7 linked regions of the Homo sapiens genome follow. The protein of the gene in region 1 purifies or fractionates together with the protein of each later gene. This does not show direct contact. Each region holds a gene or a part of one and is shown on either strand. Other genes may lie near its edges. The genes, in order: OPA3, ETFA, MTCH2, STARD7, GLUD1, CS and MRPS6.

Region 1 (3,500 bases):
ACAAAACACCCTCCCGCACAGCCAACTCTGCGTGAATTACTCTTTGTCTTGCAGTTCTCCTCTCTTGATGAATCAGCTCTGTCTAGGCAGCGGGCAAGGTGAACTCCTTGGGCGGTTACACACCATTCATCCCTCCATCCATTCATTATTTCCTTTAGCTGGTATTTTGTGAGCCTCTGCCCTGTGCCAGGCCTTGTGCTGGCAATGCTGGCGAAACAGCAGGGACCAAACCAGCACCAATCTGTGCCCTCAAGGAATTCCTAGTCCTGCGGGGGACAGACGTATCCCCCAACAGTGGGCAGAGCTGAGATGGGGGAGCCCACTGGGCACCTGACATGGCATGGGGTTCAGGGAGGGCTTCCTGGCAGAGGAGACATCTGAATTGGGACCTGAAGGGTGAGGACAACACCAGGACAAGGCGTAAGGAAAGCACTGGGGCAGAGGGAGGAGCACACACAAAGCCCACATGATTAAGGGAGTGCACTTTTTTTCCCCCTCTGTAAGTTTGGATGCTTAAAGTTTGCTTTCCAGGGCCCGGAATTCTTGGTTGTTCGGTGTTTGGTGGGGTCTTTGTTGGGGCTGCAGCTCTTAGAATGGGAAAGTATTAGATTTCACAGTTACCAAAGTGCTTTCCTGTTAGCCATCTCATTTGACCCCCACAACTGTTTTGTCCCCATGTCCGGAAAGAGGAATGACTTCCTCTGGTTTATAGAAGGGAAAATGGAGGTGTTGAGGGCAGCAGTTAATTGCTCAGGTCATACGCAGAGATTTGTGCCAGAGGCGAAACTTTGGACACTGAATTCCTAGACCCAGTTTGTTTCCTGTCTCTGCCTGTCTTCCAAACACTGTGACATTCTTAGCGTTGTGGTTTAGAAAATGGCTTCTGGAGCTGGGCGCAGTGGCTCATGCCTGTAATCCCAGCACTTTGGAAGGCGGAGGTGGGTGGATCATGAGGTCAGGAGTTCAAGACCAGCCTGGCCAACATGGTGAAACCCTGTCTCTACTCAAAATACAAAATTAGGCAGGTGTGGTGGCGCACACCTGTAGTCCCAGCTACTTGGGAGGCTGAGGCAGGAGAATTGCTTGAACCTGGGAGGCAGAGGTTGCAGTGAGCCAAGATCACACCACTGCACTCCAGCTTGGGCGACAGAGCGAGACTCTGTCTCAATAAATAAATAAATAAATAAATAAATAAATAAATAGGCTTCTGTGCTGGGCGCGGTGCCTCCCACCTATAATCCCAGCACTTTGGGAGGCCGAGGCAGGCAGATCACCTGAGGTCGGGAATTAGAGACCAGCCTCACCAACATGGAGAAACCCCGTCTCTACTAAAAATACAAAATTAGCCAGACGTGGTGGCGCATGCCTGTAATCCCAGCTACTCGGGAGGCTGAGGCAGGAGAATCGCTTGAACCCAGGAGGTGGAGGTTGCAGTGAGCCGAGATCACGCCATTGCACTCCAGCCTGGGCAACAAGAGTGAAACTCTGTCTCAAAAAAAAAAAAAAAAAGGCCGGGTGCAGTGGCTCGCGCCTGTAATCCCAACACTTTGGGAGGCCAAGGTGGGCAGATCACGAAGTCAAATTTCAAGACCTGCCTGACCAACATGGTGAAACCCCTTCTCTACTAAAAATACAAAAATTAGCTGGGCGTGGTGGCACGCGCCTGTAATCCCAGCTACTCGGGAGGCTGAGGCAGAAGAATCACTTGAACATGGGAGGCGGAGGTTGCAGTGAGCCGAGATCGTGCCACTACACTCCAGCCTGGGTGACAGAGCGAGACTCCATATCAAAAAAAAAAAAAGAAAAAAAAAAAGAAAGAAAATGGCTTCTGGAGTCAGACTGACATAGGTTTGAATCCCTACCCAGACTGGTGACTTTGGGTACGTCATTTAGCCCCTCTTAGCTTCAATTTCCGATTCTGTACATTGGGTATTATGTAATGGTCACATTAACTGGGCTTGTACTTTGTGCCACGGCTTGTCTGCAGCACCTTCCAGCCTCTGGCACTGGGTCCTCACCAGTTATGATGAGGTAGATACTATTATTATTATTATTATTATTTTGTGTATATACTATGTATGCATTATGCTGTAAATAATATTTATTGTGTTGTGGTGAGGATTAAGTAAATGGATATAAAATGTTAAGTCAGTGCCTGGCATAGGGTCATGGCTGTCACGTAGATGTTATAGATACAACAGGCAGGAAAAAGCAAAACATCTTGCCCTCAGGTACCTTACATTCTTGTGGAGGAAGCCAGACAATAAATGAAATAAATAGTTGGCTGGGCCCAGTGGCTCATGCCTGTAATCCCAGCACTTTGGGAGGCTGAGGCTGGTGCATCACTTGAGGTCAGGAGTTTGAGACCAGCCTGGGCAACATGGTGAAACCCCATCTCTACTAAAAATACAAAAATTAGCCAGGTGTGGTGGCAGGCACCTGTAATCCCAGTTACTTAGGAGGCTTAGGCAGGAGAATCACTTGAACCCAAGAGGCAGAGGTTGCAGTGAGCCGAGATTGCACCACTGCACTCCAGCCTGGGTGACAGAGTGAGATTCCATCTCAAAAAATAGTTAAAAGATGAAGTATATTAGATAGCAATAATTGCTCTAGGAAAAAAATCAGGGTTGTAGAACAAGGAGTATTTAAAGGAAGGCTATAAGCCTAGATAGGATTGTCAGGGAGAACTCACTGAAAATATGCCAAGGAGGGAGGGAACGAGCAGCATTGCCATCTGGGGGAAGAAACGTTCCAGCCCAGAGGATCCCGCATGCACACAGGACCTGAGGCATGAGCGTGCCTGGCACACAGGACAGAGGAAACTGATGACGGGAAAGGGGGACAGTTTGTATGGGGCCTGTGGGTCACTGCAAATGCCTTGGCTTTACTCTGAGTGGAACAGGACTTACTGGAGGGTTCTGTGCAGCAGAAGGACAATATCAGAGTTCTGTTTTATTTTATTTTATTTTATTTTTTGAGACAGAGTCGCACTCCGACACCCAGGCTGGAGTGCAATGGTGTGATCTTGGCTCACCACAACTTCCGCCTCCCGGGTTCAAGTGATTCTCCTGCCTCAGCCTCCCGAGTAGCTGGGATTACAGGCATGCGCCACCACGCCCGGCTAATTTTGTATTTTAAGTAGAGATGGGGTTTCTCCATGTTGATCAGGCTGGTCTCTAACTCCCAACGTCAGGAGATCTGCCCGCCTTGGCCTCCCAAAGTGCTGGGATTACAGGCATGAGCCACCACGCCTGGCCCGGGAGCAGAGTTTTTAAGGATAACTTGGTGGGTGAGGGGAAGCCAGTGAGCCAGGAGTGCTGATTGGTCAGAGATGAAATCATAGGAATTCAGAGATGTCTTGTGCTCAGTTAGTTCCTGGGTGGCGGTGGGGGAGGGGGAGGGCGGGCACAAGATCAGATGAGCCAATTTTTTGATCTGGGTGGGGCCAGCTGATCCATCAAGTGCAGAGTCTGCAGAATATCTCAAGCACTGATCTTAGG
Region 2 (3,500 bases), on another chromosome or scaffold:
CTTTGGGAGGCTGAAATGAGAGGATGACTTGAGGCCAGGAGTTTAAGACAAGCCCGCACAACATAGGGAGACTACATCGATACAAAAAATTTGAAAATTAGCTGGGCATGGTGGCATGTACCTGTAGTCCTAGCTACTCAGAAGGCTAGGATAGGAGGATCGTTTGAGCCCACAAGTTGGAGGGTATGTTGAGCTACAATCGTGCCACTGCACTCCAGTCTGGGCAACAGAGCTAGGCTGAAGCAGGCAGATCACCTGAGGTCAGGAGTTCGAGACCAGCCTGGTCAACACGGCGAAACCCTGTCTCTACTAAACATACAAAAATTAGCCAGGTGTGGTGGCACGCACCTATAATCCCAGCTACACACGGGAGGCTGAGGCAGGAGAATGGCTTGAACCCAGGAGGTAGAGGTTGCAGTGAGCTGAGATTGTGCTGCTGCACTCCAGCCTGGGCGAGGAAAGTAAGACTCCATCTCGAAAAAAAAAAAAAAAAAAAGTAGGCCAGGCGCGGTGGCTCACGCCTGTAATCCCAGTACTTTGGGGGGCCGAGGCGGGCGGATCACGAGGTCAGGAGATCAAGACCATCCTGGCTAACACAGTGAAACCCCGTCTCTACTAAAAATACAAAAAATTAGCCGGGCGAGCTGGCGGGCGCCTGTAGTCCCAGCTACTCGGGAGGCTGAGGCAGGAGAATGGCGTGAACCCCGGGGGGCGGAGCCTGCAGTGAGCCGAGATGGCGCCACTGCACTCCAACCTGGGCGACAGTGAGACTCCATCTCAAAAAAAAGAAAGTAAAAATAAAGACTAAAAATGACACCTTATTAAGAATGGAACAAAAGAAAAGAGAGCTAAGATAACACCCACGGCCACAGAGAGAGAGCAAGAAAAATCCACTGACGAATTCCTTGTCTTAAGCTCCCATTACACTCCTCCCTCCATTTTTAACTTTATGTAGACTGCTATCCATCTTATAACACACTCATTCTTCAGACACATCACAATGCACATGATCAGATTACAGCTTTCTTTACCTTAAGGATGTCTTCAACCACCACAAGCCCTTTCCAAATTCCCTACGTAGATAAAATTTGGCTTTTCTAGATATCCATCAGCCATCCAAATAAACCATCTCTTAAAATGGGCTACTAATAGAAATGACTCTTGCTCGTTCACTCTCTCTCTCACATGCAAGCAGAATTCAGCATTACTTTTACATGCAGAAAATTTTAAAATAATAGCCTAATTAGAGTTTTCTCCACAACATAATTTGAAAACCTGGAAATGGTAGTTTTAACGGAAAATTATGACAAAATCTTGAAAGAATAAATTTTAGCAAAACTACCACATCAATTCAGATAAATCCAGATTGGCTACATAAACAGTCTGTTGCATACTTTCAGCACAATGAAATCTAACCCTTTCAAGCAGTGATATCAGATTCCACATTCTCAACCTTCTCACCTTTCCGAAGGCAGATGCTCCAGCACAGATGTGTGTGTAATTGAACTGCTTCTGAGTTGCCAAAATCAATGGTGTCAGTTCCTCTGAGAATTAAACACATTTGATAAAAAAATATTTTGAAATACTTTCATATTCATATATTCAAGCGTAATTTAGACACTACATTTTTTTCTACTGGAAAACCTCACCTGGAAGTAGGCCTTTGTACACATCATGCTGAGCCACCAGAACTTTTGCTATGCCTGCTACTTTACAGAGATCTTGTGCCACCTATGATTAAAAGATAAGTTCCTAATTATCCATCTATCAGAAATATACAAATAAAGCCACCACTATAAATATCAACAGATCATAAAATCTTAATGGCCAACTGTAAAAATTATTCTTATTAGCAAAAGGGCCAGTTAAGAATTAAAATATATTCCGGCCGGGCGCAGTGGCTCAAGCCTGTAATCCCAGCACTCTGAGAGGCTGAGGCAGGCAGATCACCGGAGTCAAGAGTTCAAGACCAGCCTGGCCAACATGGTGAAACCCCATCTCTACTAAAAATACAAAAATTAGCTAGGCATGGTGGCGGGCACCTGTAATCCCAGCTACTTGGGAGACTGAGGCAAGAGAATGGCTTGAACCCAGGAGGCGGAGGTTACAGTGAGCCAAGATCACACCACTTCACTCCAGACTGGGCGAAAGAGTGAAACTCCATCTCAAACAAACAAAGAATTAAAATATTAAAATACATTCCTTAACAAAGAAAATCTAATGCCAATAGATCTTACTACTGACTGACCTTACACTGTCCAACTACCAAGCATTTCAACAAAAATTCCTGCCTTGAAAAAGAAAAGTGCTAATTGACAAACCAAAATCAACATGGCTCTTTATTCAAATTTTGTTATAAATTGTGCTTTTTACTTTTGGTTCAATCCAAGTGTAAGTTCAATGTCCTGGAAATGGTGAAAATGAAGTTCTCTAGTAACATCCCATTGTCAACCACTGAGTTCCTGCCCACATACACATATTTATCTATGACAAAGCAAAATATTTCCTATTTTAATTCTTCATTTTTCCTGTTTGGAATTAGAATGGGGTTCTGAGAAAGCTTTTTGATGATTCAGATTTTCTATATTCAGAAGGCAATTAGATTTCCCCTTTTTAAGTATCTTTATTACCTCATGGCTGGTTTCCACTTTAGCTAAGTCATATCAGTCATACTATCGTCTTCTGTCTCCTTGTTTACCTCCAAACTGATTCATTGATTCACTGATGAGTAGGATTAAAAGGCTGTGCCTTGTGCCACCCTCATATGAACTGTTAGCTTGCAACAATATTCACTGAAGAAAGGATGCAGTGCAAGAATACATTCTCTGCTAAACCAAGTGTTCACCGGCATACCATTTGTACTACAGAGGCCCTTTATTATGGATGCAGCTGCATTTAGCTTCTCAAACTTTAAGAGAATTTCCAATTAAGAAACTCAGTTAATTGCAATGTAGCTGCATAGCAGCATGGGATAGAAAATGGGGCAGAATTTTCCCATTGAAACTATCTTGTTTTTACTGGCAAAACGGCTGGCATTATACAGAAGAATAACTTGCTGTTTATGACAAGTAGCTGAATAAAATGGTATAAAACCGAACTCTATTAAACGATCTCTTCATACAGGTACTGGTTGTTTTCTTTAAAATTAGAACATGACAGGTTAGGATTGTAACTGAGTACAGAAGACGATTTCTATTTTGATTTTTCTCAAAGTAGTATAAAGTATCAAAGTCTTTTTAAAGTAATATTACAATAATTATTTTAAATCACAGCAAAACAAACAACAAATCACAAATTCCTATATATCCAAAAACAGGGAAACCAAAAAGATAGCTTAGCCATCATATACTGTGGCTAATACAGACATACAAATAGATAGCTTAGCCATCACACATCACACATTGTGGCTGTATCAACTATGTAAGATCCTACAGTTGTTAGCAGGAATTGGGTAAAGAAATCCACATAACTAATCATAAACCCACCAGAATATGTTCTTT
Region 3 (3,500 bases), on another chromosome or scaffold:
CATCATGTTGCCTCAACTGGTCTCAAACTCCTAGGCTCAAGCAATTTGCCCACCTAGACCTCTCGAAGTGCTAGAATTATAAGCGTGAGCCACTGCACCCAGCCCATTATTTTATTTTCCAATAAAGCTTTGCCTAGATAATAAATAATTTTTTGTTGCAGATTATACACCTCATAGTAATAACAAACCCTAAATTGGTATCTAGGCAAAATCATCCACTAACAAGACTCTAGAAGTATAAGACCAGCTCTGTCAATACCACTGTGACAAATAAGTGGTTATGAAAGGTGAGTTTGGGGGAAAAAAAGAGTCTAAAATCAAGGCCATCATTTTACCAGGATAATAATCTACCTGGATCGTATTTGTAAGTTGAATGTGGGCACTCAAATGGCTTCTAGGTCTCATCTAGGGATTCTTTCTTCTTCATTACTCCTGCTCATGATTTCTAAACATCACATTTTACTATTATGCCAAAGTGAAAACACAGAACACTGTAAAGTGTACATTAACTGGCAGACTAGACTAACTCTAGCTAAAGTGAGCTACAAGAGTTAACTTGGGATTCCAGAGACAATATTTAAGAAAACAAATAAATAAAAATAAAACAAAATAAAATGAGAGAGACAGAGAAAAAGAAATACCTCTTTTTGTAGCATGCACCAACAGTCTATCCAAGACGTATATATTGGGGAGTAAGGAGGGCATCCACCAGCAAGACTAAAATAGAAAAAAACATGGAGCTATTCATGTTAATATTAACCATTCTCTTGAGACGTTGATAAACCTTGTCAAAATATTCTGCTGCACAGAAGATTCCCTGAGAGATCATTTTAGTTCAATGAAACAAATCATATTGAAGCAGGGGAACGATCAAGCATCCAAAAGAGAATTCCTCCCCTATATTTAGGTTTCAAATAAATAAATAAACATAAACTTCAACCTTAATTTCTAAAACATTTAGACTTTTCCTTTGTGGACAAATGAAACTCCAGAACACAGCATTTACATGATTAAAGAGCAGGGAAAGGTGGCCGGGCACGGTGGCTCACACCTGTAATTCCAGCACTTTGGGAGGCCAAGGCAGGTGGATCATTTGAGGTCAGGAGTTCAAGACCAGCCTGGCCAACATGGTGAAACCCCATCTCTACTGAAAATACAAAAACATGAGCTGGCATGGTGGCGCATGCCTGTAATCCCGGCTACTTGGGAGGCTAAGGCATGTGAATTGCTTCAACCCAGGAGGCGGAAGTTGCAGTGAGCCAAGATTGCACTACTGCACTCCAGCCTGGGTGACAGAGTAAGAACCAGTCTTTTTTTAAAAAAAAAAAAAAAAAAAAAGAGCAGGGAAAGGAGATTTAAAAACTAACTGGTGTTCACAAAGATACTAAACATGAAAACGGATATAAACAGTAGATATATATGTTCCTACTTAGGTATAATCACTTCATCTTGAAAAAACTGTAAATAATAATAATACATTTAATTCATCCTTCAAGTTTACACTGTGCTAAAAAATGGCAGTTGCTCTACGTATCAGAAAACATCACAGCTTGCCAGGAGTAACATGAAACAAACAAAACCAGAAAACAAACAATGTAAAATGTTCAAAACTCCACATAGCTATCTGATCTTATTTGAAAACAGTAACATGTTTAATGATATGTCAGGTACCATATGGGAAAAGAATTTTGAATTAAACAAAAAAGGCAAGGCTGGGTGCAGTGGCTCACGCCTGTAATCCCAGCACTTTAGGAGGTCGAGGAGGGTGGACCACTTGAGGTCAGGAGTTCGAGACCAGCCTGGCCAACATGGTGAAACACTGTCTCTACTAGAAATACAGAAATTAGCCGGGGGTGGTGGCAAGTGCCTATAATCCCAGCTACTCTGGAGGCTGAGGCAGGAGAAGTACTTGAACCCAGGAGGTGGAGGATGCAGTGAACCAAGATCGCGCCACCACAATCCAGCCTGAGCAACAGAGCAAGACTCTGTCTCAACAATAACAACAACAAAAAAATACAAAAAATTAGCCAGGCATGCTGGTGGGCACCTGTAATCCCAGCTACTCAGGAGGCTGAGGCAGGAGAATTGCTTGAACCTGGGAGGTGGAGGTTGCAGTGAGTCGAGATTGCACCACTGCACTATAGCCTGGGCAACAGAGTGAGACTCCATCTCAAAAAAAAAAAAAAAAAGGCAAAATTTTGCCCAACTCAGTAGAGTCACTTGGCATCTAGAATTTGGAAATCAATGGAGTCTACCACTATACCAAAACCTGCCCTTCTAACCAATACAGAGAAAAGGTCATCAAACTTTCCATAGACTAAATATCCTAATTCTGGTTCTTTAAAACTCACTTTCTCCATAAAGCCCCTAGGAAAAACAGGTATGGATTGTCATTTAATCCCTGATATACCTTTTGTCACTTTCATAGAAAAGATAAAGATTTAAAATAACAATATGTTGGCTGGGCATGGTGGCTCACCCCTGTAATCCCAGCACTTTAAGAGGCTGAGGAAGGAGAATCACTTGAGCCTAGAAATTTAAGAACAGCCTGGGCAACAAAGTGAGACCCTGTGTCTTCACAAAAAATAATTAGCCAGGCATGGTGGCATGCACATGTACTCCCAACTACTTGGGAAGCTGAGATGGGAGGATCCCTTGAGCTCAGGAGTTCAAGGCTGCAGTGAGCTAGGACTTCACCACCACATTGCAGCCCTATCTCTAAAAAAATTAAAAATAAATAAAAATAGGCCAGGTGCAGTGGCTCACGCCTTTAATTCCAGCGCTTTGGAAGTCCGAGGTAGGCAGATCACCGGAGGTCAGGAGTTCAGGACCAGTCTGGCCAACATAGCAAGACCCCATCTCTACTAAAAATGCAAAAATTAGCCCAGCATGGTGGCACATGCCTGTAATCACAACTTCTTGGGAAGCTGAGGCATGAGAACTGCTTGAATCCAGGAGGTGTCTGTTGCAATGGAGCGAGACTGCACCACTGCACTCCAGCCTGGGTGACAGAGTGAGATTCTGTCTCAAAAAACAAAAACAAAAACAAAAACAAAAACTATAAATAATAATAGTAATTGGCCTGGCATGGTGGTTCATGCCTGTAATCCCAGCACTTTGGGAGACTGAGGCGGGTGGATCACTTGAGGTCAGGAGTTCGAGACCAGCCTGGCCAACATGGTGAAACCCTGTCTCTACCAAAAATACAAAAATATTAGCTGGGCATGGTGGCGAATGCCTGTAATCCCAGCTACTCAGGAGGCTGAGGCGGGACAATCACTTGAATCCAGGAGGTGGAGGTCGCAGTGAGCCGAGATCATGCTACTGCACTCCAGCCTGGGCAACATAGCAAGACTCCATCTCAAAAAAAAAAAAAATAATAATAATAATTAATAAATAAATACAAATTGAGGCTGCTGCTGCATAGGGCATACAAAGAAAAAAATTAGGAATCTTCTAATGGTATCAATTATACTTTTCCTCCCCCCCTTTTTAAAAAA
Region 4 (3,500 bases), on another chromosome or scaffold:
TCTTTACCCCATTTCAAGTTAATGTTTGTGTATGATAATGAGGTAGGAGTCTAAACTCATTCTTTTGCATCTGCTTCTCCAGGTGACCCAGTGTCATTTGTCGAAAAGCCTATTCCTTCCCCAGTGAACTATCCTGGCATCCTTGTTGAAAACTGACCAAAAATGTAAAGGTTTATTTCTAGACTCTCAATTTTATTCTAACAATCTAGATGTCTATCCTTATGCCAGTACCACAATGTCATTACTGTAGCTTTGTAATAAGTTTTGAAATTGGGAACAGTGAGTCCTCCAAACTTTGTTCTCTTTTTTCAAGACTGTTTTTGCTATTCTGAGTTCCTTTCATTTCCATATGACTATCAGAAGTGGCTTGCCAATTTCTGCAGAACTGCCTAGGATTTTGATAAAGACTACACTGAATTTGTAGATCACTTTAAGTGGTATTGCCATCTTAGCAATATTAAGTGTTCTAATCTAATCCATGAACACGGGATGTCTTTCACTTATGTCTTTTTAAATTTCTTCCAATGATGTTTTGTTGTTTTTAGTGTTACAGTTTTAGTTGTACACTTGTTAATTTATTCGTATGTATTTATTCCTTTTATGCTACTGTAAATGAAATTGTTAATTTTATTTTCAGATTCATTGTTAGTGTACATAAACATGACTTCCGTGTATTGATCTTGTATCCTGCAAACTTGATGAACTCATTTATCAGCTCTAATTGCTTTCTGTAGATTCCTTACTATTTTCTAAATATAAGATCATGTCAGCTGCAAATAGAGATAGTTTTATTTCTTCTTTCCAATCTAAATGACTTTCATTTCCTTATGTTGCCTGATTTCATTGGTTATGACCTCCAGTACAATGTTGAACAGAAATGGTGAGAGCAGAATCCTCATCTTGTTCCTGATCTTAGGAGAAAAGCACTAAGTCTTTTGCCATTAACTACACTGTTAGCTATGTTTTTTGTAGATGCCTTTTATCAGCTGCAAGAAATTTCCTTCTATTCCCAGTCTGCTGAGTGTTTTCTTTTTTAATCACAAAAGGAGGCTGGAATTTGTCAAATACTTTTTGTGTTTATTCAGATGATCACGCAGTTTTTGTCCTTTTTTCTATTAATATGGTGTAATAAATTGATTTTTGTATGAAGAACCGACCTTGCCGTTCCTTAAATAAATCCTACTTTTCATGGCATATAATCCATTTCATATATTGCTGAGTTCAGTTTGTTAGTATTTTGTTCAGGACTGCGAAAAGTTGTGTGGTTTTTTTTTGTTTGTTCTGAGCCCAGGCTAGAGTGCAGTGGCATAATCACAGCTCACTACAGCCTTAACTCCCCAAGCTCAGGTGATTCTCCCACTTCAGCTTCCCAAGTAGCTGGGACTACAGACAAGCACCACCACATGCAGCTAATTTGTTTTCTGTATTTTTAGTAGAGATGGGGTTGCACCATGTTGCCCAGGCTGGTGTTGAACTCCTGGCCTCAAGTGATCCACTAGCCTGGGCCTCCCAAAGTGCTGGGATTCCAGGCGGGACTCACCGGCTGCAAAAAGTTTTAAAACATGAAAAACACCACCATATATTGTACTATGTATCACTATGTATCATTCAGGGGTATATACATATGTATAAAAACATAGGGAATTATATACAACAAATTGGGATAATGGTGACATCTTGGGGAAAAATAAGAATACAACTGGAAAAAGGTACAGAGGAACCCTAAGTATACTTGTAATATCTTATTTCTTAACATAGCTGTACTTGCAACGCTCGTGTTATTATTTAAACCTTTTTTATATATCTGAAACATTTTATAATAATAATTTTTTAAAACTTGGCTTGTATTTTTCCCATAACCTCTTCTTTTTTGAGACAAAGTCTCACTATGTCGCCGAAACTGGCCTCAAATTCCTGGGCTTAAGAGATCCTTTCACTTCAGCCTCCCAAGTAGCTGGCACAATAGGCGTGTGCTACCATACCCAGCTTCTCCGTGCCCTCCACCTCACCCTACCCCCTGCAACATTTAAAGAAAGGTTACAGATAAGAAACAAAAATTGCTGGCTGGCTGTCTTATACACTCTATTGCAATTCAAGACTGAAGAAGACCCAAATTACTGCTACACTGTCTGAAATGCCTTTTCACCCTTCAAGCTTCAAAAAACCACAAAGGTAACTGCTAGGCAGAGTTAACCATACACACTGATTTTTATTCCTTTACACAGGCATATTACACTATAATTAATCTATCTTTATATCTGCTTTCCTTACTAAACTATAAATTCCTTAATAGCCCAGAATCAGTCTTTTTCATATTTGTAGTTCCAGCTCCTAGCATGTCCTGGTAAACATTACATGTCCTGGTAAACATTACATACATTACATGAATAAATTTAGTAAATCAAGAAATAATAAAATGAAAATAGGCCTCAGTAATCCAAATTTTTATTAAAAGATTGCATTAAGGCCTGGGGCAGTGGTTCACGCCTATAATCCTCAGCATTTTGGGAGGCTAAGGTGAGCAGATCACTTGAGCCCAGGACTTCAAGACCAGCCTGGGCAACATGCAAAACTCCACCTCTAAAAAAAAAAAAAAAAAATTACACAACAAATAGCTGGGCGTAGTGGCATGCAGCTGTAGTCCCAGCTACTGAGGAGGCAGAGGTGGGAGAATCACCTGAGCCCTGGAGGTCGGGACTGTAGCGAGCCAAAATCATGCCACTGCACTCCAGCCTGGCAACAGAGTAAGACTCTTAAAAAAAAAAAAAAATTGGCCAGGTGCAACGGCTCACACCTGTAATCCCAGCACTACAAAAAAAAATTAGCCAGGCATGGTGGCCTGCGCCTGTAATCCCAGCTACTCAGCAGGCTGAGGCACAAGAATCTGTTGAACCCAGGAGATGGAGGTTGCAGTGAGTTGAGATCGTGCCACTGCACTCCAGCCTGGGTGAGAGTGAAACTGTCTCAAAAATATATATATATTGCATTAATATATTGCTGCAAAAGCCAAAAATTCAAAGGTATAGTGTCAATCCAAGATTAAAAGTTTAGAGCAATTCAAAATAATGGTAAGTCTAAAGATTTGTGTTCTAGTCCTGGCTCTACAGCTGACCAGCTGTGTGATCTTATTTTATTTTACCTTTAAAGTGAGGACGTTATTTCTTGAAGTCCTATTAGTTCTAAAATTGAATTTGCTGAATTTTAAGCTTTGGACTTGGATGAAAATATTTATATAGGGGAATATTTGTCATTTTGACTGCCTGAAATCCCTTTCTATTTGGAAAGAACCCAAATAGGTGAATGCAGCCCCCCTCCCGCCCACAAGCAGTTAAAGCACAGCTCCTAATTTAAGTGAGGTTAGAGACTTCTAGAAGGGGCTTTGCATCTTGAAGATAACACAAAGGCACAGGATCTTGAGGGAGCTGGGAGTCCAGGAGTACAACCAATCTGGGGGAAAGAATGCCAGCAACACTGCTCTAAGTAGATTATTCCTGCTGCAG
Region 5 (3,500 bases), on another chromosome or scaffold:
CTTTGTTTTTTTAAAAGAACCCTCTGCATAAAGTTCAGAGATCTTGCCTGCAGGAACAAAAAACACATAATAGAAAAATTGATTTACTTAGAATATAGACTATAGTTCATAATAAAAGCAGTCCTTATTTGGTAAACCTTCAATACGAGTACATCACCCTTGGTTATTTCTTTGCTCTTTCTCTCTTGGCATAAAAGAAAAAAAAAATTCATGCAAAATCCTACTAAGGCCCAATATGTACAAAATATCTTTTAAAAGTCCTATGTTGATATATTTGTGATAATGACAAACGATAAAAGAAGTCATACTACTGACAACCTTTGAAATTTTCATTTGTCATCTTTCACATTTTCCTCTAGCCTAGAAGCAAATCAGAAGAATTACGTCTGATAGACTTTCTCCAAGAATAATAATCAAGAGAAATAGCAATTCATAATAAACAAAGCATTTTCTTAGTTTTTAATGAAGAAAACTAAGAAAGTAATTTCAAAATTATTCAATAGAAAATCTTTAAAGATAAATGGACTACACACTGGTAGAGAAATGAGTTGTTCTGGCTAACACATTAATCTCTTAAACACCAAAGTCTTCAAACCTCTTTTGATGGAAAACTGTTTAAAATGTTATTTCAGGTCTTCGGAGTTGGGTGTAGGGGAAAAAGGTTATTTCATTTCCTTAGCAATTAGAATAAATGGACCTCTAGAGATATCATCTATGCTGAGTTTTATATGCAAAGCTGTTTGAATATGTATTTTTCTAGGAAGAAGGTAGGTCTTCTAATAGCTTTTAACAGAAATTTCAAAGGTATCTATGATCCAAAGTATTAGGAAGCATTGTGTCAATGGCATGAAGTGGTTCTCAATCAGCGCTTACAATTAAAAGCCTAAGATACAATTTGTAACTTTTTGCATAAATAAATCCCAGACAACAATGATTAAGGTGGGTGCTGGAATCAGATGCCCAGAATCTGAACCTCAACTCCACTACGTACTAGCTGTGTCACCCTGCCAAAGGACACTTCACTCCTCAACCTTAGTAGCCACATTTGGAAATCAGGGACAACAGTGTATTGCATGAGGCATAAAAGCAATGATACATGAAAAGTTCTTACATGCATTGTTGCTATAAGGCATAGAACTGATGATGCATGAAAAGTTCTTAATAAAATGCCTGGCACACACAGAGCTGAATAAATGTTAGCCTTTGCTAATATCTGACCTTGGTGAAGGCAGTTGACCTCAAGTGAAGGCAGAATGTGTGTGGCTGCAGAATCTTCTAGGTGTAGTTGCCTTTTTGTAAAGATAATCGGAAGGTCTTGAGTAGCTCCTTCTCCTAGTTTGTCTTCTTGTCCTTAATAAAGCCTTTCCTGCCTTTAACAGTAGTATTTCACATATTAACAATTCCGACTTGATAGTGAACACTTGAATCTGTATTAATTTCTGCCTCTGGAAAGGGGAAAATATTGATTCATTTGAATAACTAGTCAGTTTTAGACAGCGGCATTAGATTTAAGACTGTTCATGGTTATATTGGGGGAAGGACTTGGGGTAGAGCTGCTTCACTTTTCATTTTGTAACTTTCGTTACTATTTGATTATGTGAATCATGCATGTGTATTTTATGGGTTGCTGAGTACAAAATTTATGGGCTATTTATGAATCAATGTGCTCTAAAGTGATACTAGAGATTTTTCTCTTTATTACTTACATTGTAAAAGCCTAATTATTGGGTAAAATAAATAGAAAAGAAGAACAGTCACGTGGCAGAGACTAGTGTCTAGGATTTTTTCAACATCTACAGGTTAGTATTTTAGTTTTTAATGGTTACAGAACCCTTAGTATTTTTAACATAAGTAAATAAAAACCGATTTTCCTAAGCACTCTGAATTATTAACAGCGGTAAACCTAATTTCTTCCCACTATATGCCAAAAGTTCAGGCTCAATTTTTATTTCTTGTACTTAAACACTACAAGTTGTACTGAACTTTAATATATATTGGTGCTTAGGATCCAATTTTTGATGCCCTAATTCTTACAAAGTATACTTTGGATAATGAGTGAGCAGCTGTTTGTCTTCCTGCACGTGGGGCTTTACTGCCAAAAGCAAACTTGCTAAATGGATTCATACACGCAAGTGACAGAAAGACTGAAATCTGATGTACAGATCACTACCATTACCAAGCGTCTTCATTTTCTAGTATACTTTGGGAGAAAAGACGCATTTGGCTTCCATGAAATAAAAAGGCATAAGGGCAACACATTTCCGTATTTAAATAAGATGTATTAAAAACAACAACCTCGGGGCTAAGTGCTTTTAAAAGACACACAAATTACCTATCCTCTGACTGAACTTTCAGAAAAGTCCTAAATTAAATTCACCTACAAAGGTTATATTTTATCTGTGGCAGCAGATGCAGACACACAGCCACTTAAAAATATTAGAAACTGTGAGTTTATTAAAAGTTACCTAAGTTTTGATGGTTGTCAATTGAGCACAGCAAAATAAGTCAGAAACATTTTTTCCCCCAGTGAAGGCAGAGAAATATCTCATTTTAAATCAGTATCAGTGCTTTCTATAGTCTTCCCTTAAGCGCTAAACAATGACATCCCAGAGGCTGAGGGCGTCTTTAACACTGCATTGACTCCGGTCTTCCCTTGCATTATGTCATCAAGATTCCACTGTTTCCTTCTGGCATTTTGACTTTTAAAAACTAGTTACTGGATTAATATAGGGTACACTTTTTTGGGTACTAATATTTGTAATTAAAAGACTTAGGGTCAATGTATGAGAGAACTCCATCTACGGTCCATCAACTATATGTAAATTATGATAATTTTAGAAAATTTTATGATAGTAGCATCAGTGATAGGGAATTTTAATAGTTTTAATATCAAGACAACTGGGGGGGGGCAGACTGGAAGAGAAAGTTAATTGACTCCTACCATCAATAAATTGCTATTATCAATCTGTACTTTCCCTCCAAACTGACTTTAAAACAATAAACTTCCTTCTAAAAAGGTAGACTGGTCTCAGGCAGAACCATAGCAAATGAAATACAGATAATTTACTCTGGGAAAGTTAATAGAACAATCTTTGATAATATTTCCAAACCCACCAGAACTTTTGAACCAGTCTTCTCAAATCAGTCGCATATTCTCACACTATGCCCCTTTGCTGGAAATATTTTTAAGGCCTCACTTAAACTTCCCTTCAGATCCTTTAGCTTACCCTTTCAAATCCTTAACACAGACAAATCTAACGGCCTCAGGTACATGTAGTAACTGGGAAAAGAAAAGCACAAAAACAGTGTGTATTATTAAATATTTACTTGGAAAAAGTACACATCAGCCACCAAGTCTTATAACCATCTGTTTCCCTTAGAGATTATTGCTAGATTGTTGCTTTGCTTCAACCTCAAGAATTTTAATTTAGAAAACTCAGGGATAAGGTTGTTCTTGAGGGAAAATGAGATACAGAAAGCTGAAGGTTGGTAAAAGGGTG
Region 6 (2,566 bases), on another chromosome or scaffold:
CTTAGTACTGCATGGCCATAGCCTGGAACAACCTGTAAAGAGTGAGGAAAAAAGATAGTATTCTCAGTAGAAATTCTTTTATTTTTCGAGACAGGATCTCACTCTGTCACCCAGGCTGGAGTGCAGTGGCATGATCACATCTCACGGCAGCCTCGACCTCCCAGGCTCAGGCAATTCTCCCACTTCAGCCTCCAGAGTAGCTGGGACCACAGGTGCACACCAACACATCTGGCTTTTTTTTTTTTTTTTTTGGTAAAGATGGGGTCTGGCCGTGTGCGGTGGCTCATGCCTGTAATCCCAGCACTTTGGGAGGCTGAGGTGGGCAGATCACCTGAGGTTGGGAGTCCTAGACTAGCCTGACCAACTGACCAACTCGGAGAAACCCCGTCTCTACTAAAAATACAAAATTAGCCGGGCATGGTGGCGCATGCCTGTAATCCCAGCTACTCGAGAGGATGAGGCAGGAGAATCACTTGAACCCGAGAGGCGGAGGTTGCAGTGAACTGAGGTTGCGCCACTGCATTCTAGCCTGGGCAACAAGAGCAAGACTGTCTTTAAAAAAAAAAAAAAAAAAAAGATAGGGTCTGTGTTGCTCAGGCTGGTCTCAAACTCCTGGGCTCACGAGATCCATCCACCCTGGACTCCCAAAGTGCTAAGATTATAAGCGTGAGCCACCACACTCAACCTATTTAAAACTGTTTTTTAGAGAATGGGGTCTTGCTGTGTTGTCCTGGCTGGAGTGTAGTGGCTATTCACAGGAGTGATCTTAGCACACTGCAGCCTTAAACTCCTGGCCTCAAGCAATCCTCTTGCCTCAGCCTCCCAAGTAGGTGGGACTACAGGTGCATGCCATTGTGCCCACCTAGAAATTCTTTTCTAAATTCTTCAAGGTAGATAAATGAAGAAAAAAAAATCTCTAATTTAGGGACCTCTTTCATTCTTTTCTTAATTCTTCCAAATTGCAGAACTTGTGTCTTGGTTTCTTTCCTAGTCGTTAAGCATCTCTGCTTACCCGTCCTGAGTTGAGTGTGTTCCAGATGTAGTCTCGTAACTTCTCATCTGACACATCTTTGCCAACTTCCTTCTGCAGCTGTGTTAGCCAGACAAGCACTTCCTATGGGTAAGGTTTGGGGAAAAAGGGAATGTTAATACATATGCCAGAAGAGAATGCCAAGATCAGAAACAAAGCATGGGGTAAGGAAAACATGTAGCAGGAAAATAAAAAGAATAGTCTTACCTGATTTGCCAGTCCATGGAGAGGCCCTGCCAGCCCGTTCATGGCTGCTGCAAAGGACAGGTAAGGGTCGGAAAGGGCACTGCCCACCAAATGGCTGGTATGGGCACTTACATTGCCACCCTCATGGTCACTGTGGGGAAGTAAGAAGGGAGAGCCAAGGGAAGAAAGAAGGGGCAGATTATGGAAACTTTGCTGTTCTCTTATTTGCCACTTACTAGCCTAGTTATGGGCTCATGCCAGCCTATAGCCAGTCAGTTATACCTAAACTCTTGTAAAAGACATCCTAATCTTGGCCAGGCACAGTGGCTCACGCCTATAATCCTAGCACTTTGGGAGGCCAAGGCGGGTGGATCATGAGGTCAAGAGATCAAGACCATCCTGGCCAACATGGTGAAACCCCGTCTCTGCTAAAAATACAAAAATTAGCTGGGCATGGTGGCACACATCTGTAGTCCTAGCTACTTGGGAGGCTGAGGCAGCAGAATCACTTGAACCTGGAGGTGCAGGTTGCAGTGAGCCAAGATTGCGCCATTGCACTCCAACCTGGCGACAGAGCAAGACTCCATCTAAAAAAAAAAAAAAAAAAAAGCATCCTAATCTCATTACCAGCTTTTGTTCACTCATCCACAGAGCTGGAGAGGTTACTGGTTGATGATGCCTGTATGCTCTGCTCCATGACTCCAACCTAGCTTTAATAGCAATGGCCCCAAAGAGCGAGCTCCTGGAAAGCTGAAGGACCATCTAATGTGAGCAGCTAGTACCTTTTCCCAGCCAGAAGCACCATCTTGTTCTTAGCATGGTTACAGTAATTTCTTTAGGCCTCCTGACCTTGCTTACTAGACCCCTTTCTTGCCTTGGATCATCCTTTATGCCACGTTTCTGTCTTCTTGCTGCCTATCATCTGTTCTCAGAAGATGAGAACATAAAGGAGCTTTTAAAAAAATTTCCCACCAATTGAGGCACCTAGTGGCTGTGGTTGCTGGGTCTAGCTTACCTGTGGATGGTGAGGTACAGGCGCGTGAGCTCAGTGAACTGATGATCAGTATAGCCTAACATGTTGGTGAAATTGTGAGACCAGTCCAGGTTAGAGTCAATGGCCCCAATACCGCTGCCTTCTCTGTAGAGATTTCGGTAGATCTTTGCTGCAACACAAGGTAGCTTTGCGATTAGATCCATAGAGTCTTCATAAATCAACTGACAGAAGAGGAGCAAGATGGAGAAAAAAAAAGGAATTATCAGCAAAGAAGAATTAGGCAGGGATATCGTCTGTCCTCCATGAATTGGGGCTATTTGGGTTGATGGTTAGTTATATGATGGGTTGTTATATAT
Region 7 (3,500 bases), on another chromosome or scaffold:
TAAGGACCTGCCAGCTTCCCTCAGCCCATCACAATATAGAACCAGGGGTTGGCCAGATAGTAAATAGTTTAGGCTCTGGGGCCATGTGGTCTCTTGTAATTACAGATCTACCTTTAGCACAGAAGTAGCCATAGACACTATGCAGATGTGTGAGTTGGCTGTGTTCCAGTTCAACTTTATTTGCAAATACAGGTAGCAAGCCAGATTTGGCCCAAGAGCCCTGGTTTGCCAACCCTGCTTTATGGTGAGGTAAGGTCTATGGGGCGTTATTTTTGCTCCTCCTTCCACCTTTCGTTTTATACTTCTGGGTGTTTTGAAATTAAAGTGAGATGAATGTGGCCATTCCAGTAGTCTACAGTTTGACCTTGACATACTGAAGTCAAACAATTTTTTTTTTTATATTTTCCTAAGTTACATTCTTGTTAGGTAGCCTTTCCCCTTTTTGAGACAGATGTAAGAAGAAAATGTTTTTTACTTTATAAGCTCTTACTTCAGAAGAGGGTAATGAGTTTTATACTGTAAACACTTCAGTTGGAACTTAAAAGATATTGAGATATATTCCTTTTTAATCAGGCAAAACTGGAATTGAAATTTATTTGGGTAGCTAATCAGAAAACTAATCAATCAAATGTTTTTTTCCTTTTTTTTTTTGAGTGCAAAGCTGAGACCCGACTCTTTATTTGGATGGGCTGTTCCTTTACCTTATCATACGTTAATTGATGTAATGCCAGGTCAAGAAACAGCATTTTCAGTTAAATGAAATACTGTGCTGCTGTTAATAATGAGTCCTCTGCAGATGTATGGCGATGTCTTTGTGAACTATAATGAAATGTGAGAAGAATGTAGTCTTCATATGATTAGAACTGTCTAGGAATGTGTTTGATACAATCATAAGGATAAATTGCCTTAGACTTTTTACCTACTGTTAATGGGAAGAGATTTTGGCCTGAATTTTTATTGTCTTCAGGAAATTTCTGTTTTATCTTAAGGTTGGTTAAATATATAAACAACGATTCAGTAGGAATTTTTAAAATCCCTAATGGACTTCAATATGAAAAGAAAGTAAAGAATGTTTTTTTCTAAGCCTTAAGCCAATACTTAGCACATTTCATACCATTTTAGCAGCACTTGTCAGAAAGAAAATTTTAAAAATATAGTGGATTTTGTTTGGTTGCCAGAATGCACACTTAAACTTGTTCTGCAATTTTCTCTTCATTTGATCCCCAAATGAACCTCTGGAAGGTAGCCTATTCTTAAGTTTCCTCCTGCACTTTAAAATCACCCTGCTTGCACCTCTTCACGTAGGTCTTTGAGGAGATGTGCACCTTGTCTTTGCCAAGGTGTGCCTCTGGCTTCCTCCCCGATGGTTTCCACAGCTTTCCTTCTCCTTGCAGCAGGCGTTTCCACTTAATAGCTGCCCTGTCAGCATCTCTCTAGAGATCCCATCCCAAATCTGTAAACCTTCTTGGCTTTTTTTTTTTATGAAGATAAAATATGTAACAATAAGACACTAGACCATATAGTAGTTATCCAGTAAATCATAGCTGTCATCGTTGTTGCTATTTTAGAAATCCTACATTTTATCGTCTTGCATGGTCCGCTCCTTTTTGACTACCAACTTGCCCATGTGTTTTCTCCTAAAACACGTTGCTCAAGTTGCTTGTCCCTGGAGCCCTGGCATTTTCTCCTCCTCACCATTGTTCTCATACCTCTACCATGGGAACCTTGGCAGCCTGCTTTCTGGCCCCATCTTGCCAAATGCCCATGTAGCTACCACACCGCGGCTTTTTCTTGATCTCTGTCCTCTACCCCATTGTCATTCTGGACAAGGCAGTCTCCCGATTTTCCTTGTCCTATTTGATGATACGTTTTATATTTGCTTCTCTGACTTTGAGTCCTCTTGTTAGCCCCTAAATGTTTGTACTCCCCAAGGTTCTGCTGGTGATCTCCTTTCCTCTCCCCCTCCACCCTTTCTATTGATCTCACCTCCTTCTCAGGCTTCAGAGAGCCGTCTGTGCAGGTGACTATGAAATGTGTATTTCTCATCCACCTGCTTTGAGCTTAAGATTTACATCTGGAGAGGTCAACCTAGGGGAGCCATGGCATCTGAGACTCAGCGTGTCTTAAACCAGATTCATCTCTTACTGTCCTCACCAGCTTCTCCAGCTCTCCTTTTAGCTGTAGTGACAGTTGCACTCTCTCAGCCACCAGATTGTGGTGCCCTTCTTCGCCACATCTTGCCTTCATTCTCCACATTGCATTCGTTGCAGTTTTCAGGCTTATCCTTATAAAGTATCTTTTCTTCCAAAAATTGCTTGTGTATACATATGCATAGAGAGATATCTGGAAAGAAATTCACCAGAAAGTTTAATTCACCATCCAGTCTATCTCTGGGTAATGGGATTCTATATTGTTCAAGCTTTTTTTTTTTTTTTTTTAAATAACAGGCCTTGATTACTCATGGACTTGTGCCCAGTGTATACCCGTCTATCTCCTCAGCACTCCCTTGCCCTGAACCCCATCACTGGGGCTCAGTTGCTGGTTCATTCATTCTTTGTACCTCCGGTCATCATTTTCCGGGTGCCTTTCAAGTAAACTTTCCTTAGTGAAACCCTTCTTCCAGCTGAATGTTTCTTCCTTTCGTGAGCCCTCTGGTCTCTATGCTATTTCCTGTATTCTGCCCTCTGCTCTCCATACATGTGTATTTTGTGTTCTGTCCTTTATTAGATTGTAAGCTCCATGAGGGCAGAGTTTGGGTCTGATTACCCATCCTTTCCCCCTTTTGGTTACAGTCTCCCAGTTTTTCTTTGGGAGACAACACCTTTTCCCCCTGGCTACAGTTTTGGTGGGATGGGCAGTTCAGGTGTCCTGCCAACGAGATACTCTTCTCCTGGAATTTGAATTTTGAGTCATGGGATACAAGGACTGACAGTGATTGGCACTGATTCAGCCTGGCCGAGGTGCTCTGAAGAAGCCACTCATTAGTTCCTGCCTCCCAGATCCCTGGAGCTGCCCTGGTCCCTGAACTCTCCGAAGCCTGGTTCTTCAGATATTCCTCGTATCTGTGAGCTATCTCATATCCTTACAATAAATTCTCTCTCTCTTTTATTTTAAGTTAACCAAAACCAGCTTCTGTTGCTTTTACCCAGCGATTCCTACCAGTAGAGCTGTTATGATTGGAACTGAGCAGACTTAATCATTCTAGCTCTTATATTAATTCTGATGCTTTTTTTTCTTTTCTTTAAAAACACAAACAAAAACAGCCAGAGACTGCTGCTACTTTGAAACGTACGATAGAGGCCCTGATGGACAGAGGAGCAATAGTGAGGGACTTGGAAAACCTGGGTGAACGAGCGCTTCCTTATAGGATCTCTGCCCACAGTCAGCAGCACAACAGAGGCGGGTAAGTTTCTTCATGAAGTCTTGAAAGACGTTTTTGATAGGCTCAGTAAAGAGTACTGTTCAATTACTATTAGAAGTTCTTAAAATTTCACATTGAG

What was found.
Region 2: the proteins of OPA3 (region 1) and ETFA purify together in Homo sapiens (co-immunoprecipitation; one large-scale study listed by IntAct). This does not show direct contact.
Region 3: the proteins of OPA3 (region 1) and MTCH2 purify together in Homo sapiens (affinity purification with mass spectrometry; one large-scale study listed by BioGRID and IntAct). This does not show direct contact.
Region 4: the proteins of OPA3 (region 1) and STARD7 purify together in Homo sapiens (affinity purification with mass spectrometry; one large-scale study listed by BioGRID and IntAct). This does not show direct contact.
Region 5: the proteins of OPA3 (region 1) and GLUD1 purify together in Homo sapiens (co-immunoprecipitation; one large-scale study listed by IntAct). This does not show direct contact.
Region 6: the proteins of OPA3 (region 1) and CS purify together in Homo sapiens (co-immunoprecipitation; one large-scale study listed by IntAct). This does not show direct contact.
Region 7: the proteins of OPA3 (region 1) and MRPS6 purify together in Homo sapiens (co-immunoprecipitation; one large-scale study listed by IntAct). This does not show direct contact.

Annotation. Positions count from the first base shown.
Region 1 is NC_000019.10:45,578,303-45,581,802, reverse strand, and holds part of OPA3 (optic atrophy 3 protein), read left to right. Parts: intron 1-3,500. UniProt on the Homo sapiens protein: May play some role in mitochondrial processes.
Region 2 is NC_000015.10:76,290,970-76,294,469, forward strand, and holds part of ETFA (electron transfer flavoprotein subunit alpha, mitochondrial), read right to left. Parts: intron 1,732-3,500; coding exon 1,650-1,731; intron 1,545-1,649; coding exon 1,462-1,544; intron 1-1,461. UniProt on the Homo sapiens protein: Heterodimeric electron transfer flavoprotein that accepts electrons from several mitochondrial dehydrogenases, including acyl-CoA dehydrogenases, glutaryl-CoA and sarcosine dehydrogenase.
Region 3 is NC_000011.10:47,622,060-47,625,559, forward strand, and holds part of MTCH2 (mitochondrial carrier homolog 2), read right to left. Parts: intron 718-3,500; coding exon 642-717; intron 1-641. UniProt on the Homo sapiens protein: Protein insertase that mediates insertion of transmembrane proteins into the mitochondrial outer membrane. Catalyzes insertion of proteins with alpha-helical transmembrane regions, such as signal-anchored, tail-anchored and multi-pass membrane proteins.
Region 4 is NC_000002.12:96,198,828-96,202,327, forward strand, and holds part of STARD7 (stAR-related lipid transfer protein 7, mitochondrial isoform 1 precursor), read right to left. Parts: intron 1-3,500. UniProt on the Homo sapiens protein: May play a protective role in mucosal tissues by preventing exaggerated allergic responses.
Region 5 is NC_000010.11:87,088,344-87,091,843, forward strand, and holds part of GLUD1 (glutamate dehydrogenase 1, mitochondrial isoform a precursor), read right to left. Parts: intron 3,281-3,500; exon of another isoform or gene 1,219-3,280; intron 1-1,218. UniProt on the Homo sapiens protein: Mitochondrial glutamate dehydrogenase that catalyzes the conversion of L-glutamate into alpha-ketoglutarate. Plays a key role in glutamine anaplerosis by producing alpha-ketoglutarate, an important intermediate in the tricarboxylic acid cycle.
Region 6 is NC_000012.12:56,273,765-56,276,330, forward strand, and holds part of CS (citrate synthase, mitochondrial precursor), read right to left. Parts: intron 2,432-2,566; coding exon 2,232-2,431; intron 1,368-2,231; coding exon 1,238-1,367; intron 1,115-1,237; coding exon 1,013-1,114; intron 33-1,012; coding exon 1-32. UniProt on the Homo sapiens protein: Key enzyme of the Krebs tricarboxylic acid cycle which catalyzes the synthesis of citrate from acetyl coenzyme A and oxaloacetate.
Region 7 is NC_000021.9:34,122,078-34,125,577, forward strand, and holds part of MRPS6 (small ribosomal subunit protein bS6m), read left to right. Parts: intron 1-3,263; coding exon 3,264-3,403; intron 3,404-3,500.